Linked DNA regions of Homo sapiens: region 2 is linked to region 1. The links come from fine-mapping of genetic effects on gene expression. A gene starts in region 1. The other region holds a variant in brackets. All regions are shown on one strand. Distances are between the middles of the regions.

Region 1 (9,546 bases):
TGCAGCACTTGCCTCGTGGTCACATTACTCTGACTTCTGTTTTTATCCCAGCTCCTTTACAGACCCTCCTGTCTCCCTCCTCTAAGGCCCCCTGTGATAACATTTGACCACTCTGATAATCCAAGATAATCTCCCTATCTTAAAATCCTTAATTTAATCACATTTGTAAAGTCTCTTTTGCTGTGTAAGGTAACATTCACAGATACCAAAGATTAGGATATGAGCATTGCTGTGGTTTGAATGTGTCCCCCAAATTTCACGTGTTGGAAACTTAATCCCCAAATTTATATGTTTATGGTATTTGGAGGTGGGGCCTTTGGGAGGTAATTAAGATTAAAGTCATCAGGGTGGGGCTCCCATGACGGGACTGTGGCTTTATAAGAAGAGGAAGAGACACCTGAGCCGGCTGGCCCTTGCCCTCCCTCCATGGGATGCCCTCCACCATGTTATGATGCAGTAGAAGGCCTTCACCAGATGTTGCCCCTCTACCTTTGACTTCCCAGCCTCCAAAATGGTAAGAAATAAATTTCTTTTCTTTATAAATTACCCAGGCTGTGGTAGTCCTTTATACCAACATAAAATTGACTAAGACAGACATCTTTGGGGGCCATTTTTCTACCACATTCATCCTCCTACATTCACTTCCCACAACTTTCCTTTCCATGACTTTTACAATCTAAGCCAAACCTATTCAGCATTTTCTGTGTGTACCACACTTCCTCACACCTTTACAACTACCAATCCTTCCTTTGGAAAGGTGCTTGGCCCTCCTGGCTTTCTACCTGTGGAACTCTAAGAGACAGAACAGAATAGTGGGTAAGAGGCCTAACTCTGGAGTCAGACAGTTTGGGCTCAAATATGAGTCTGCCACTTACTAGGAATTTTTGGTAAATGGTTTTGTTTTGTTTTAACCTAGATCTAAATGCCAGATTGTAACAAATACAAGAAATAGAAAAACCAGGGAAACTGCACCACAAGGAAACAATTACACAGATCCAGAATGTGTAACGTTCCACAGGCAAAAATGACCTGGTTTGATGAACAGATGTTAAAAAAGGTGGCAGGGGTGTGTGTGGGGAGGGTGTCTATGTAGGTAGAGGTTGGGGGGTTGTTTAAAGAAGACTAAAAGAGACAATAACAAAATGTGGTCGGGTGCGGGGGCTCACGCCTGTAATCCCAGCACTTCGGGAGGCTGAGGCAGCCGGATCATCTGAGGCCGTGAGTTCAAGACCAGCCTGACCAATATGGAGAAACCCCATCTCTACTAAAAATACAAAATTAGCTGGGCATGGTGGAGGGCACCTGTAATCCCAGCTACTTGGGAAGCTAAGGCAGGAGAATTGCTTGAACACAGGAGGCAGAGGCTGCAGTGGGCAGATATCGCGCCATTGCACTCCAGCCTGGGCAACAAGAGTGAAACTCCATCTCAAAAAAAAAAAAAAAAAGAGAGACAATAACAAAATGCAAGATGTAGGCCCAAGTTTGAAAGCAGGGTTAAACAAACTATAAAAAGCTTTGGTGAGGCAGTCAGGGAAATGTGAGTCTAAAACAGCTATCAAAGAGTATTAAGGACGTCTAAGCGTAAGTATGATGTGGTTATGCATTTTTTAAAAAATTTTCCTGAGATGCACACCATAAACACAGAGATACACTGAAAAGTTTTATTTAGGAGTGAACTGACATATCTGAGATCTCTTCAGTAATATTCTAGAAAAAAAAAGTTAGAGAGGAACAGATGAAACATGATTGGCAAACGGTAATTGCTGAAGCTAAATGACTGGAACAAGTTGAGTATCCCTTACCCAAAACACTTGGGACCAGAAGTGTTTCAGGGTTTTTTGGAATCTGGAATATGGGCATTTTGTTAACCAGTTCAGTATCTCTAATAGGAAAATCTGAAATCTGAAGTGCTCCAATGAGCATATCCTTTGAGCTCATGTCAGTGTTGTTCAACGTTTTGGACTTTTGGAGCATTTCAGATTTTCAGATTAAAGATGCACAACCTGTACATGGGAGTTGATTCTATTATTCCATGTGTTTGAACTTTTCACAGTGCAGATGGTCCTTGACTTACAATGGTTCAACTTAAAATTTTTTTGACTAGTCAGGATGTAATCCCATTGTAAATTAAGGAGCATCTATACATTTATTTAAAAATATATCTCCCAGGAAGTTTTTTTCCCCCAGGTTCTGCCAGAAAGTAATTTCCTTGTCCATTTTCCTTAACAGTTTATTCACATTTTTGCCATCATAGTAATTATACCTAATTATTTACTCTTATTATACTGTGCCTAAAATTTACTTCTTATTGTGTGCTTATGTGCAAGGAACTCTGCTATGTGCTAGGCACTCCGTGGTGAACAAGACAGACATGGCCTCTACACTAGCTTCACAGAGTTGTTTTTTTTTTTTTTGAGACGGAGTCTCGCTCTGTCGCCCAGGCTGGAGTGCAGTGGCACAGTCTTGGCTCACTAACAGAGAGTATTTTATAGCGCAGATAGGGAGACAACCACCACCTAAGCAAACATGCAATTGCGACAGTGGGAGGGAAGCCCACTGGAGTCGGTGGCAAGGGCATAATGGGGAAATTGAAGAACTTTCTGTAGAGAAGTTGATTAAGGAAGGCCTTTCAGAAGATGAAATGCTTAATCTGAGACCTGAAGGATTCTATCATGTATGAACGAATGTTTGTGTCTGCTCCCAGCCACCAAATCATGCGTGGAAATTCCAGGCCGGGTGTTGTGGCTCATACCTGTAATTCTGTTACAGGAAAGGGGTCCAGTCCAGATCCCAAGGGAGAATTCTTGGATCTCGTGCAAGAAAGAATTCAGGGTGAGTCCACTGTGCAAAATGAAAGTAAGTTTATTAAGAAAGTAAAGGAATAAAAGGATGGCTACTCCATAGACAGAACAGCCGAGGGCTGCTGGTTGCCCATTTTTATAGTTATTTTTTGCTTATATGCTAAACGAGGGGTGTATTATTCATGCCTCCCCTTTTTAGACCATGTAGGGTAACTTCCTGATGTTGCCATGGCATTTCTAAACTGTCATGGCACTGGTGGGAGTGTAACAGTGAGGACCAAAGTCACTCTCTTCGCCATTTTGGTTTTGGTGGGTTTTGGCTGGCTCCTTTGCTGCAACCTGTTTCATCAACAAGGTCTTTATGACCTGTATTTTGTGCTGACCTCCCATTTCATCCTGTGACTTAGAATGCCTTAACTGTCTGGGAATGCAGCCCAGTAGGTTTTAGGCTCATCTTACCCAGCTCCTGTTTAAGATGAAGGTGCTCTGGTTCACTTGCCTCTGACGATCCCAGCACTTTGCGAGGCCAAGGCGGGCAGTTCACTTGAGGTCAGGAGTTCGAGACCAGCCTGGCCAAAATGATGAAAACCCGTTTCTACTAAAAATACAAAAACTAGCTGGGCCTGTAATCCCAGCTGCTCTGGAGGCTGAGGCAGAATGGCTTGAACCTGGGAGGGGGAGGTCGCAGTGAGCCAAGATCACACCACTGCACTCCAGCCTGAGCAGCAGAGTGAGACTGTCTCCAAAAAAAAAAAAGGGCGGGGGGTGGAATTCCAAACACCCTCTTCCCCCAAGAAGTGATTGTATTAGGAAGTTAGGAGGTGGGGCCTTCGGGAGGTAATCAAGATTAGATGGTCATGAGGGTGGGGCCCTCACCCATGGAGATTATAAATGTCCTTAGCCGGCCTGTCTCACTTGTTCAGAAACCGGAAAAGTCCGTGGTCTGCAGTGTGGAAAAGGGCACCCGGACCTCTTACTTCCAGCCTCTAGTCTGGAAACTTTGTCTAAGGTACCCCATCTACATTACTTAGTCACAGCCACCCTGAACCCACTAGCCTGTACTGCGCTGGAGCATTTCGCATAAAATGAAATTAACATAAAAATGACACGTGCTCGTTGTGGAAAAAATACCAAAAAGATCACTTTTAATTCTGTCATCTAAAAATAACCACCAGTTACATTTATAAATTTCTTCCAGTAACTTTTTTATATGAACATGTTTTTAAACTTGGGTCAATATTAAAAGACCAGAAGTTGTTAAACATCATTTTAAATCCCCTTATCCAGGAATTAGCATTGTTATTCTTGGCCGCAGCAGAATATTATTTTATTCCCTCAAGCTTTCCATGGCTTGGGTCTGCCCTGGTTTTGAACATTAGGTTAGGCTACAGAAAGCATTCTGGGTCTCTGGCCCATTTGTTTCTTTCTTTGTGGAGACGGGGTCTGGCTCTGTTGCTCAGGCCTGTCTGGAACTCCTGGGCTCAAGCGACACTCCACCTCGGCCTCCCGAGTGGCTGGGACCACTGGCGCCCGCCGCCACCGCGCCGGCTCCGGGCCTCTCTCTACGCGTGGCTCCGCAGGCTCCATTCTCCACACAGTCGTCTAGGGGGGCGCCAGGAGCCCCGCGACGGGCCAGGCCGGAAGCTCAGCAAGTGCACCAGGCGGCGAAACGGCCGGCTGCGCAGGGCAGCCCCGGACACAGCCACGCCGCGGCCGCCCGGCGCTCCCCCGACCCAGCCGACCACGAAGCCGCCCTCCCCCTCACACCGCAGAACCTTTCTGCCTTTTACTACTTTTCAAAGTGGACCTAGGCTCCTGGCTCGAGCCTGAGGGGATACAAGGGATCACGAGGAGCGCCATCACCGTGCAAGGTCGACAGCTTCCGCTCAAAGCCCTGTGGCCCACGCTTCCGGCCTCGACCGACTACGTCATCACCAAACCCCGTGATACCTCACTCCACCTTCAGGTCCTCCGTCCCAACGGTTCCGTGTCCTGGAACTTTCCACGTTCCTGCGCACGCGCTCTGCGGCCCTTAACGTCCCGACTTCGCCCTCCTCTGGCCACGCCCCTGCCCGTTAAGGGCCCTGCCACCCCCGTGACGTACCTATCTTCCCTCGGGCAACCTCGCAACAGATCTCTGATTGGCTGACCCAGGAAGCGGACTTTGCGAGGCGGCGGCGACGATAGGCTGGCAGCCGGCCGACTTCCGCAGAAGGTGATTGGTCGGCGCTGCTGTCCAATCGGCGGCGGGCTGTCGGATTCAAATCCGGATCGTTGGGACTGCGGTCGTTAGTCTCCGGCGAGTTGTTGCCTGGGCTGGACGTGGTTTTGTCTGCTGCGCCCGCTCTTCGCGCTCTCGTTTCATTTTCTGCAGCGCGCCAGCAGGATGGCCCACAAGCAGATCTACTACTCGGACAAGTACTTCGACGAACACTACGAGTACCGGTGGGCGCCTTTCTTAGACCCCGAGCCGGCTCCCTCAGCCGGGGCCCCCGCGGGCGGGGCGACCCAGGCATAGTAGGGTCGGGGGTGGGGGCCGGGGCCTGGGGGGCGGAGCCCGGGGCCGGAGGGCGAGGGCCGGGGTTTGGGGTCGCGGCCACCTGGCGCCCCGCGCAGTCGGACATGGTTGGGTGCCTGGCCGCGCCGGGCCGGTTGGGCCTTTGTTCGGTGTGCGCGGAGGGTGAGGGAAGAGTGCCCACCGGGCCGCATTTAGTACCTGGGTAGGAACCGGCGCAACTTGGGGGTCATGGGGTCCTCGGCGACGCGGAGTGACCATCCCGTCACTTTTTTCTCGGCCGTGGCCGAAGTAATTAGGCCGTTCAGTAGCTGGTCTCAGTTCCAGTTCTTTGAACCAGTCCAGGAAAACCCACCTGGTGCCGTCCTTTTTCCTTTAGCAACCGTGACACACTTTCCCTGTCGCTGACGGGGTGATGCAGCTTTTACTAGTTTGTGGTTTAGAATGGTCAAATGGTCATTTTCATCTGTTAACACAGAGGAACACTTTTCTTTTTCTTGTTTTTGAAGTGAGTGGTATAAGAATAAGCTTTGGAGGCGACCCCCCGAAAAATGAGCTTGATGGGGATTCGAAAATGTTTACTGGGTATGGTGATTTGGGCCATTATAGGTTAGCCGCAGTCATACAATTGAGGGTATTATTAAAGGAGTTTCATTTTAAGGCCGATTAAGAACTTGAGTGGACTTTGGGCATCATTTTCTGCTAGTATACACTGGCCAAATTTTGGGCTTTGAGAAACTTTTGCGTTTGAGTCCTGAAGCACCGTACTAGAACATGGTGGCTGTAATCGATCAGTAAAATTAGACAAATTTTAAATGTCCCTGTCCCCTTCCCCCCAATTAAAGTAGATTGGGGGAAAGCGAGTAGGGACATTTAAAATTTGTTGTCCTTACTGTATGCGGGACACTTCATTTAGGGCGTGGCTTCAGAAAACAGTCAACCCCTTTTTCTTAACTAGGTAGCGACTAGAACGCTGCGTTCTGGGATACTACCAAGATTTAGGGGAGATAAAGCCCATGCCATCGTTGGCCAAATTGTGACCTTGTTTTCTGTCTGCTGCCTTTGTAGGTTAGATTTCTCCGAATGCTATTTAAGGAAGAAAGAACAAAACAGTGGGTGGTTTCTCTTTTTCTCCCCCTCCCTAGTAGCATGGAAGTCTGTTTTCACATGAGGACTACTGAATATTTCTATGGGTAGTAGTAATTGCACCCTTTTGTATTCCTAGCTAGAAAAATAGCATGTTTTTCTGGCTGTAGGTAAATTTCAAGTAGATTGTGTTAACCTTATAGTAATAATAAACTATACTCGTGTAATATGCTGGCAGTGTTCAATTATGCGATGTTAATCAAGAGCCCTATTGAGGATATCCAATAATGAACACAATGTAAACCGTAATAATCTTACTAAAACCTAGAAAATTATTCTGAAACACATCTGGTGCCAAGTGTTTAGGATAAGGATTTAAGGGTCGGTACAAGTTTCTTTTAGGGTATAATATTGAAAATAAATGAAGCTATTTCTCAGACTTCTTTCTGATGGCAGTAGGTCGATTTTTTAGTTTTAATATACTCAAATGATTTGTGTGTGGTAATGTATAGAAGAAAGTTTACATATCTGAAGTGATGTATTTTAATCCAATAAAAATTAGAGCTGGTATTAATTGGCCAAGCCAGTAACCTTTATGAAACAGGATAGTAATTTCCACACATAATTTTAAAGGGGAAACTAGTAATAATATAGCACTAAGGCATGAGTCTAGGGTGGTTTGTATTAATATGTAATGGTGCAGCATGCAATGTAAATTTCAAAGGCTAGTATTTATTTTTCCCAGTGTGCAGTTATCTCTATCTTTCTTTGATTTTTCTTAATTACAAACTTAATTTCCTAGTCCTTTTACGTGAGGGTCTTAATGTTTCTAAGGGCATAACAGTGGGTGCCCCCACCCCCACATCATGGAAGTCTGTTTTCACAAGAGAAAAACTGTTAATTTTTCTGGGCAGCCTTACAAATTAGTAATACTTGCACTATTTTGCATTTCAACTGAAATAAACGTTAGATTTTGGAAATAATTTTCCTTACATGTAGTTAGTTTGAAATCTCTGTGTGGCAAAATACAGGTAGAATCCTCATATGGGGTTGATGCTACTTAAACATTTTTCCTTTATAAAGAAACCCTGATGGAGGAGAGCCTGTTTCCGTGTTTATGGAGAAGGGTGGTAACTTCTATCTAAATAACTTGTTGGTAGATTTATGTACTCTGTAAGTTTGATAGAAAAGGTACAAAAGCACTACATTTCTCTTTGAGAATAATCAACAAGATAGAACGTAGAAATAAGATAACAGATTATTTGAAGTTAGATGTTAAAGCAGCATTTCAAGAATGTGGGTGATAACTGGTAAGAATTACAAAGAATCACTATATAGTTCACTGGAATTGATGAAAACTCTACAAATTATGGTAGTAAGCTATGACTTGGTGGCCTTAAGGCAATCTAACAACACAGTAGAATTTTTCTGAGGCTCACTTTGCCCTGCAAATAAATTGGTACTTAACCACAGACTAAAATTTAAGTTGATGACAGCTGGGTGCTTATAGCGGGTTAGGGATTCAGTTTACTGTGTCTCAGAAAGTGACCAGATTGCACCTCATTCATCCCCAGCCAGCTGACTCACAGACAGATATCTTATACTGGTTAAAAATTTGGGTTGGTGGTTATGGATGGTTCAGTATAAAACTGTTGCTACTACTGCAGGTGGTAAACATGGAGCTGAGAATTGTGACTTTCATAAAGTCCTTTTTATGGTAATTGAGTAAAAATTCTTACTCAATTTGGGGAAAGAGATTTGTTAGGCAAATCTTTGATAGAATGCTTTGGGATACTGTTAATGATACAGATTTGTTTTTGAGAATCTCGTAAGGCTACAATTATACATATTGATGGTTTAACTTTGAAGGTTATTCCATGCTTGCCTAAGAAACTGAACAATGTAAGTTTTGGATATAGGTCAGTAAATTAACTGGAAAACGGTGAGGTTGCACACAATGTGTATGTACAGTTAGTGGTTTTCTGTTTTTAATTTTGAACAAAGTACTTGAAGTATAAAGCAACTTCTGGAGCATACAAGGACTAGTAGCTACTACAAAGCTAGTGTTGAGTAAGAGGAAACCCAAATTAACTGTAACTTAGATTTTTTCGTTACATAAAAGTCTAATAATCTGGGGCAGGGATAACAGCTTTACAGTCAAGGACTAGGCTGGGTCCTTACCTCTTGTTGCTTTACCGTTCTCAATTTACAGTTGCTTCTATGGTCCTAGATTCCTGCTCTGGCTCCCTGATCATATTAATGTGCATTCAACAAGAAGGAGAAAAAGAGTTCAGCATGTTCTTTCCCTTTGAGAACACTTTTCATAATAAGTTACACATTTTCTTATATCTTGTTGGCTTATGATTTGGAGGCTGGTAACCATATGTTCAACTTATATTTTGGGGTTCTCTTCCTGAAGAAGATTAAGGCAACTGGTAAGCATTCTGTGATAAGAGAAAAAGATTAATCCTATGGAAAATGCTTTCTGCTTTTGGATTGTGCACTCTTAGCTCCCTAATTTGAACATAGGCCATCATATCAGAATTAAAGGTAGTAGATTGCAGTTCTCAATATTAAAGCAACAGAGTTCCTTAAGGTACATGTATAAAGCGACAGTTGTAGAAAAGGCACTGGACTAACACTTGGCTGTATCTTGTAACAGGCATGTTATGTTACCCAGAGAACTTTCCAAACAAGTACCTAAAACTCATCTGATGTCTGAAGAGGAGTGGAGGAGACTTGGTGTCCAACAGAGTCTAGGCTGGGTTCATTACATGATTCATGAGCCAGGTAAGCTATGCTATGTTATAGTAAAGCAGTAATTGTTGAAATATTGGTGGTTATGGTTGTCAAAATTTTAAAAATATCATTGACATCAAATGATATCTGAAAGTAACTGTTCTGATAAGTTTTTTTTTTTAATGACTAATTTCTTGACTCTGGAGAGAGTTCCAATTTTATGGTAAATAAAATACCACAGCAGTGAAAGTAACACATTATTCTACTTGGAAAATAATGTAAGAAGTAAAAAAAAAAAAAAAAAAATGTATTTTAAAATCTGTATCATTGTTAACAGTATCCCAAAGCATTTTATCATAAGTATATCCTAAGACAAGTGTTCTTATCTATGTGTGGAAATTGATT
Region 2 (8,805 bases), 23 kb before region 1:
GGGTCCACACTGCTTTTATGAGCTGTAACACTCACCGCCAAGGTCTGCAGCTTCACTCCTGAAGCCAGCGAGACCACGAGCCCACCGGGAGGAACGAACAACTCCAGACGTGCCGCCTTAAGAGCTGTTAACACTCACCTGGAAGGTCTGCAGCTTCACTCCTGAGCCAGCGAGACCACGAACCCACCAGAAGGAACAAACTCCGAACACATCCGAACATCAGAAGGAACAAACTCCAGACGTGCCACCTTAAGAGCTGTAACACTCACCACGAGGGTCCACAGCTTCATTCTTGAAGTCAGTGAGACCAAGAACCCACCAATTCCGGACACACCAGCAGTTTGGGAGGCCAAGGCAGGTGGACCACTTGACATCAGGAGTTTGAGACCAGCCTGGCCAATATAGCAAAACCCTGTCTCTACTAAAAGTACAAAAATTAGCTGGGTGTTGTGGCAGGCACCTGTAATCTCAGCTACTTGGGAAGCTGAGGCGGGAGAATCACTTGAACCCAGGAGGCAGAGGTTGCAGTGAGCTGAGATTGCGCTGCTGCACTCCAGCCTGGACAAAGAGTGAGACTCCATCACATACATACACACACACACACACACACACACACACACACACACACACAGGGCGTAACTAACTCTCAGACTCCCTCTCCCCAGCTAAAGACATCTAGGCAAATTTTCATCCTGGTAGCACCCATGGGGAACTCCCTTCTCAACCTCCTTTTCCATGGAAAAATATCCATGAGCCCTGAGGATTTGAAATTCAGTTCATACAAAAGCGCCTTCCTCACCTCATCTCGTGGGAAAAAAAACCTGTCTCCCGAGTAAACATTTCATATAAAATAGTACTCAAGTCACTCCTCTCCAAAAACTTCACCTGGCCTCTTGCTTTCACATGGACATTAAGAGGCTAGGCCTCAAGTCTGCCTTTTCCTTGAGCCTGCTTTTCTCTGACGCAGAAGGGGCCACTTGGCAGGTCTGGCAATCCCACGTTCCGAGACTGGAGCTCTACAAGCGGGACTTGGAGCTGCCTGTGGCTCTGTTATTCCTTACTCCTTGGTGATACTCTTCACTTTGGTAATATTTTAGTAGGTATTGTTAGAAAGTAAACCTTCATTGAATTCTCAGAAAGAGTAAACCACTAAAGCATAATGAAGTAAACTGACAGTAACTAATTTATTATGTGTAACTACAGCACAGAATAATGCTACATAAGTTGGAATATAACAGTGGAGTTTAAAATGGATTTGGATTAAAAAGCACTAAGGACAAATAAAATTTAAAAGAGCAAATAAATTTACATATTTGAAATACGTAATTTAAGTATTGTTTTTATAAATAGTTTCTACTTTATCATTTCACTGGTTGCCAGAATCATGTTTTAGACCAGCTAATTTTCAAATATCTCTGAAGACTACAGCTGGGACCTGAAAAGCATGAACAAGTTTAAGTGGAAAACAGCCAACATTTCCTGGAATAGAAGAGATGACCCTAGGCTGAAATCGAAGGCTTCCCACCTGTGTCCACGACACTCAGAAAAGTGATTTCCCATTGCCACTACCTGGGAAAAGGGCATTGCCTTCAAGAGCCACTCCAAGGAGGTTGCCAGTTCTAGAGAAGCTTGAGATACAAGTTCTAGCAATACTCTGCTCTGCTGGAAAATTCTAGTGTTGCAAATCTCAACAAATCAGCATGCTGGCAGAAATTTAGAGTAAAAGGTATCTGGATAGTGAGAATAAATAACATAAAATTATTTTACTATAATCCTCATAAGAGTCCCTCAAAACCATCCTCAGAGCACACTCACTCTTCTCACTTGGTTTTCTGTGGCTATTTAAGATCCCAAGTAGCACCAGAAGGAAAAGTGTAGGTGGGGACAGAGATATCCACTTAAGTAATAGACAAATGAATTTGCCAAAGATCAGACAAAGAAAAATCGTATCCATTAATACAATTAGGAGCTATTCAGTACCTTCTACAAGCCAAGCATTGTGCAGGCCCTGGAGAGACAAAAAGGAACAGGACCTGATCTTGCCCTCAGGATATACACAACCTTATATGTTAAGACTAACATATAAATGATTAACTTCAATACAACAGAAAAAAGTATCAATTATGGTTATTTGGTGCAGGTATTAACCTTGGCCTAACTGGAGCACAAAAGAAACTCACTGGAGCAGTAGTAAGTAACTCATGAAATTGTTGGTCAATCTGAACAATCAAGCCAAGGGGAGAGAGCCACAGAAACCCAAAATTCTCAGGAACGAGAATTCTTATACTGTCACCTAAGGTTGCTGTGATTCTATCTGCCTTCCATCTCTGGGTGTCTCTACTCAAGATTCACTTTCCTGCAAAAAAAACCAAACAGCTGTTCTTATTCTAATTTGCATTATCACCTCCTGTGGTCCAGGAACAAAGACCCCTGGACTGGCAGCCCGAGAATCTCACAGGGTGAAGACTGAAGTTGGGAAAACCCTTGCCTTGCCAAAACACATCTAGAACCTTCTTTCCATACAAATATTCCCAAGAGGTTTCTAACCAAACATGGTTGTGCATTGCTTGTGAGCCTTCAGATTGAGCACCCCCCTGCTCCCCAGTGGAGCACAACCCAACACAACATCTCACAAGTGCATCCTGAGGTGAGATGTGATGCCAAGTTGGGGGCTACAGATTGAATTATCTTGTTGGCAAACTGGGGACTCGGTGATGGCCAGGTGTGATTTATAAATAAATGTCCATGTTTTTGAGTCCAAGAAAGCAGAAGAATCTTCTTATAATTTGGTCATTGCAATGGTTTGAATGTGTTCCCTGCAAGCCTATGTGTTGGAAACTTACTGCCATTGTAATAGTATTAAAAGGTGGCCCTTTTCTTGTTGTTGTTTTGTTTTTTGTTTTTTTTTTGAGACGGAGTCTCGCTCTGTCGCCCAGGCTGGAGTGCAGTGGCGCAATCTCGGCTCACTGCAAGCTCCGCCTCCCAGGTTTACGCCATTCTCCTGCCTCAGCCTCCCAGGTAGCTGGGACTACACGTGCCTGCCACCACGCCTGGCTTTTTTTTTTTTTTTTTTGCTATTTTTAGCAGAGACGGGGTTTCACTGTGTTAGCCAGGATGGTCTCAATCTCCTGACCTCGTGATCTGCCCACCTTGGCCTCCCAAATTGCTGGGATTACAGGCGTGAGCCACCTCGCCCAGCCAAGAGGTAGCCCCTTTATGTGGTGATTGGGCCAAGAGGACTCTGCCCTTGTGAATGAGTTAATACCATTATTGTGGGAGTGGGTTCATTATACAAAGGCCAGTTTGGTCCCCACCCCCAACAATTCTTTGGCCATGTGAAGAAAACTGTTCCTCCCTCTGTAGGATGCAGTGTTCAAGGTGCCATCTTGTAAGCGGAGACCAGGCCCCCATCAGACAGCCTCCAAAACTGTGAGAAATAAATGTCTATTCTTTATGGATTACCCCGTCTCGGGTATTGTATTCCAGCAGCACAAATGGACTAAACAGTCATCCAGTTTACCTGGAATATTTCTGTGATATACACAAACCTATTTGATTTTTGTACTCTATTCCTGGCACAGGGCTCCTAAAACCCTGGGAATTTCCTGAGTGAGGGGAGTTTCTGCTTTTACTCATAACATGCCATCTTCCACCATATCTAGTACTACACCTGAGTTTATGTTACTGCAGTGACTTAGGGTGGTTCTAACTAGCCTCTGGTCACTAGAAAGACTAAAGAGGGTGGGAACTCTTAGCCTCACCCACTGGCCTCCCACGGATGGAAGGGGCCTGGAAATGGGTTATAAAGCCTCCTGAATGGTATGCAATGAGTTTCGGGGTCAGTGAACACACGGAGGTGCCGCGAGGGTGGTATGCCTAGAGAGGGCCTGGAAGTTCTGTGCCACCAACTACTC[G/A]ACATACCCTGCTCTATGCATTGCTTTCATTTGTCTGTCTCTGAGTTGTAGCCTTTATAATAAACTGGGAAATGTTAAGTAAAATGTCTACCTGAGTTTTGTGAGCAGTTTTAGCAAATTACCAAAACTGAGAAAAGAGTCATGGGAATCCCTAAATCTGCAGTCAGCTAGGCAGAAGTGTGGATGGTCTGAGCACCCCATTGTAGCTGGCAACTGAAGTGGGTGGGGGGGCAATCTTGTGAGACTGAATCCTTTACCTGTGGGGCCTGCTGATAGCTGCAGGAATTAGTGACAGAATATAACTGAATTGTTGAACATCGAGTTGGTGTCAGAGAATTGGAGAATTGGTGTTGGAAAATACATCAATATTTTGGTGTCGGGGCAAAAAAATAGCAACCTTACAATCTTCTACAGTAAGGGACTTCTGGTTAGCATTCAAGTTGGGCATAAATATTCTTGGGGTCTGGGCATATTCCAAATGATTTAGTCACATATCTCTGCCCCAGGTCTTCTTGACACAAACTTTGGTTCAATTTTGGCCCAATTACCAAGTTTGGCCTAATTTTGATCCTTCCAATTACCTGATCATTGACAGGACCAGGATAAAGATCTAAAACCAATAGTTTTCCCCTTGCCTTCTACCTTTTCCCCCTTTTCTTTCTATTTTGCTATTTACCTTCTCTATCCCATGACTAGACGAGCCAATAATAAAACGTGATTGTAGACCGAGCGCGGTGGCTCATGCCTGTAATCCTAGCACTTTGGGAGGCTGAGGCAGGCGGATCACGAGGCCAGGTGTTCGAGACCAGCCTGGCCAACATAGTGAAACCCTGTGTCTACTAAAAATACAAAAAATTAGCTGGGCGTGGTGGCAGGTGCCTGTAATCCCAGTTACTCGGGAGGCTGAGGCAGGAGAATTGATTGAACCTGGGAGGTGGAGGTTGCAGTGAGCTGAGATCCCACCATTGCACTCCAGCCCAGGCAACAGTGCGAGACTCCATCTCAAAAAAAAAAAAAAAAAAAAAGCAATTGTAATCTGAGTGATTCTTCACTAGGTATTTGATATCAAAATGGAATCGTGCCGGGCGCAGTGGCTCACGCCTATAATCCCAGCACTTTGGAAGGCCAAGGAGGGCAGCATCACCTGAGGTTGGGAGTTCAACATCAGCCTTACCAACATGGAAAAATCCCATCTCTACTAAAAATACAAAATTAGCTGGGCGTGGTGGCACATACCTGTAATCCCAGCTAGTCGGGAGGCTGAGGCAGGAGAATTGCTTGAACCTGAGAGGCAGAGGTTGCGGTGAGCCGAGATTGCACCATTGCACTCCAGCCTGGGCAAGAAGAGTGAAACTCCATCTCAAAAACTAAACAAAACAAAACAGAACAAAAGAACAGAACGGTAATCAGCATTTATCGTATGCCTGTTGTGTACTGTACTCTGTGAAGCGCTTGATACTCATCACTTCACTTAATTGCTACAACAACTCTGTAAAGTAAAGACAATTATCCCACATGACGACGCTGAAGGTCCGTAAACTTCCAGAATATGTCAAGGGCCACCAAGCCAGTAAGTGCTCATAAGTCAGCACTTGGGTCCAGATCTGTGGACTTCAAAACCCATGCTCTTAACTCTGCCACAGCTGTCCTTGATTGATGAATGGGATTGCTTTCTGGAAGTTCATTTCTAAATTGTTAGTTTGGAACTCAAACTGAATTTTTCCCAGGTATTTTGTTATGAATCAGTTTTTCTACAACTCAGTAAATAGGGACCCTACTATTAGGATGAAAATAATTTCTCAAAGATGCCTATAAATGCATGCCCACATCCCTACAATAGATCCAACTTGAAAAACACAGACTTAAAGTCTTAGTCTATAAAAATGTCTCATAAGTGCAAATATCACCTATTAAGACTAAGAGGCTAGCCAGGCATCATGGCTCACGCCTATAATCCCAGGATTTTGGGAGGCCAAGGCCCTTTTGTTTTGGTAGGGTAGATCACTTTTGTTTGGGTAGATCACTTGAGATCAGGAGTTCGAGACCAGCCTGGCCAACATGGTGAAAACCCGTTTCTACCAAAAATACAAAAAAATTAGTTGGGCATGGTGGCATGCACCTGTAATCCCAGCTATTCAGGAGGCTGAGGCATGAGAATCACTTGAGCCCAGGAGGTGGAGGCTGCAGTGAGCCGAGATCCTGCCATTGCACTCCAGCCTGGGTGACAGAGCGAGACTCTGTCTCAAAAAAAAAATAAATAAATAAAATAAGACTAAGAGACTTTAGGGTTTATAACAGACAAATCTATGTGTATATATGTATATATTATTTTTTCTTTCTTATTTCTATGTATATATTTTGGATTATCATCAACATGAGCATGCAACACTGAAAGAATGCTTTGAGAGCTCTCAAATTCTCAAGAACACATTCATGGACTCTGGGTGTCCAGGGATCCCAGTCTGAGAAACACTGCTAGACATGAGTCTTAATTTGCTAGGATTATCAGTTAGCATTACTCTCAGCTTCAAATAACAGACACAGAATTACAGAGGCTTGGCCAAATGTGTTGAGTTTCCTCATGTGACAGAACACCCAGAAGTGGTCAGCCAAGACCGATGCATCAGCTCCAGCATGCTGTCAAGGCTGCTGTGTTTGACATGCAACTCTCAGAATTGCAAAATTGTTGTTCCACATCTAAACACTGCATCATGATCCAGGCAGAAAAACAGGCAAAGAAAGGCAAAAATGTCTATGCTCAAAAGACTTTTTCATTCTATTCCAGAAGGAAATTCCTCCTATGGAACATCTCATCAGGCCTCTCTTATCCCTCACTGACCAGAGCTCAGACACAAGTCTGTTTTTAACTGCAAGAGAGGCTGGGGAGTTGAGTGGTTTCATTTCCAGCCTCCAAAGTAGATGAAAGCAAGGAAAACAGCAGCCTCACCCAGAGAACCCAGTGAGCCCAGGGGTTCTTGTCCACTTCTATGCCATGCATTCCTCCGGCAGTCTGTTGAAGCCTACGAACCCCTTCTCAGACCAGTATTTTAAATATGTAAAATAAAATGCATATTCAAAACAAAACCAATTGTATGAAAATGCACTTGTATGGCAGCTTGGGCTGCCATAACAAAATACTTTAGACTGGGTGGCTTAAACAACAGAAATTTATTTTCTCATGCTGCTGGAAGCTGGGAATCTAAGATCAAGGTGCTGACAGAGTTAGTTCCTGGTGAGGCCTCTGGCTTGCAGAAGGCCACCTTCATGCTGTGTGTTCACATGGCCTTTCTTTAGTGCTTCTAGTGCAGAGAAGGAAAAGGGGTGGGAAATGAGGAGATCCTTTTCTTAGAAAACCACTAATCCTATTGGATTAAGGTCTCTTATGACCTCATTTAACCTTAATTACCTTTAAAAGCCCTATCTCCAAACACAGTCACATTGGGGTTTAGAACACCAACATATGGATTTGGGAGGATATGATTCAGTCTATGGCAAAAATTATCAAAATATTTAAAAACCAAGGCTGGACACAGTGGCTCACGCCGGTAATCCTAGCACTTTGGGAGGCTGAGGTGGGTGGATTGCCTGAGCTCAGGAGTTCGAGACCAGCCTGGGCAACATGGCAAAACCCCATCTCTACTAAAAATACAAAAAAATTAGCTAGGCGTGGTGGTGTGCACCTGTAATCCCAGCTACTTGGGAGGATGAAGCAGGAAAATCGCTTGAACCCAGGAGGCAGAGGTTGCAGTGAGCCAAGATTGCACCACTGCTCTCCAGCCTGGGTGACAAATGAGACTCCATCTCAAAAGAAAAGAAAAAAAGATTTTTTAAACCATATGTGTGACATAGTATTATATATTCTTCTTGAACAGATTAAATAAGAAGAGCTATCAAAAAGTCTAGTAACTACTATAATTCTGAAGTAGTGAGGAGTGAGAATTATATCACAGGATTTTTGCAAAAGCTGTAATAATATAACTAATACTACTGCATTTTGTTCCCAACATTCACAATTGAAGAAAATGCTAAACTTCAGTTACAGGAAATGTTTTTCCATCCAAAGTTATGGATTCCTTGGATTCTATCCATGAACTCCTTAAGGGATCCTTGGATCACAGGTTAAGGACCCTTGATTTTAGTCCACAAGAATAATGAATTAGAAAACAGTACTCTCTAAGTTCTGCGGAGACAAGGCTATTGAATAAAGAGAAAGTGAAGACAGTTAAAGGCAATTTTTTTCTTAAACGAAGTTTGTTTTCAGCACTGTCCTTCTTCATTTTCTCAGCTGTCCAAAAGTTTAATACTTCTTCTGGGCATAACTTAGGGACCTCTTCCTGCCCACATCCTACTCTGCCTGTCCATTGCCTCCAAGTGTCCCACCATCAAAAATTACCACCTCCTCATTTCCACCGGCAAATCAGAACCTCTTCCCACAGGGCAATATATTTCAGCTGTGGACTATTAGGAAAATAATCTAATTAAATGAAGTCATCCCAAGGGGTCAGCTCCTCAACCTAGAATGTTTGCATTCATCTAAAACTTCACTTTGTCACCCAAATAAATCTGCGATTATTAGGACTTTAAATGAAATGTTTCCCTTTTGAAGTTGGTTGCGTGAGGTTCCATCACATGCTGTCAGCACCTCTGCATACAGCCCAGCAAGCTGTGTGCTGCCTACACTATCCACAGAGACTATAATTTGAATGCTGTCCCAGGTGCTATGTCACACACCAGAGTCAAAGAGGTGTACTGCACATTCTTGTGGAGATTTTCAAACTTGAGAAGTGTGTACTTTTAAATGAATATAAATCTCTCAGATCCCCAGGGTTAACTTCACATTTTTATGCTGGATATTTTTATTATGTTACTTACATACAGAAATAGAATTAAT

Direction of the effects. Positions count from the first base shown, and alleles are read on the strand shown. Sizes are in standard deviations (SD) of each study's normalised expression.
For the expression in B cells of the gene that starts at base 5,090 in region 1, allele G in region 2 goes with a higher level than allele A (moderate effect, 0.69 SD a copy in Fairfax 2012).

Evidence for each region.
Region 2: its variant is fine-mapped to the expression of CKS2 in B cells (Fairfax 2012, PIP 0.95).

What each region holds. Positions count from the first base shown.
Region 1 is chr9:89,306,106-89,315,651 of GRCh38, forward strand. CKS2 (CDC28 protein kinase regulatory subunit 2) reads left to right here and starts at 5,090. Exons shown (of 3, transcript NM_001827.3): 1 at 5,090-5,246; 2 at 9,065-9,192. The coding sequence starts at 5,188. It overlaps MIR3153 (microRNA 3153), which reads left to right and starts at 6,120; the gene lies at 6,120-6,201. It overlaps LOC105376136 (a long non-coding RNA gene), which reads right to left and starts at 4,697. Exons shown (of 3, transcript XR_930101.4): 1 at 3,261-4,697; 2 at 2,753-2,841. RefSeq lists a silencer at 4,396-4,625 and enhancers at 4,636-4,925, 5,596-5,645.
Region 2 is chr9:89,283,337-89,292,141 of GRCh38, forward strand. LOC105376136 (a long non-coding RNA gene) reads right to left here. Exons shown (of 3, transcript XR_930101.4): 3 at 1-5,281. Among named protein-coding and RNA genes, the nearest start is that of CKS2, 23 kb to the right of the region's middle. The variant G/A (reference allele first, on the strand shown) is at 3,915.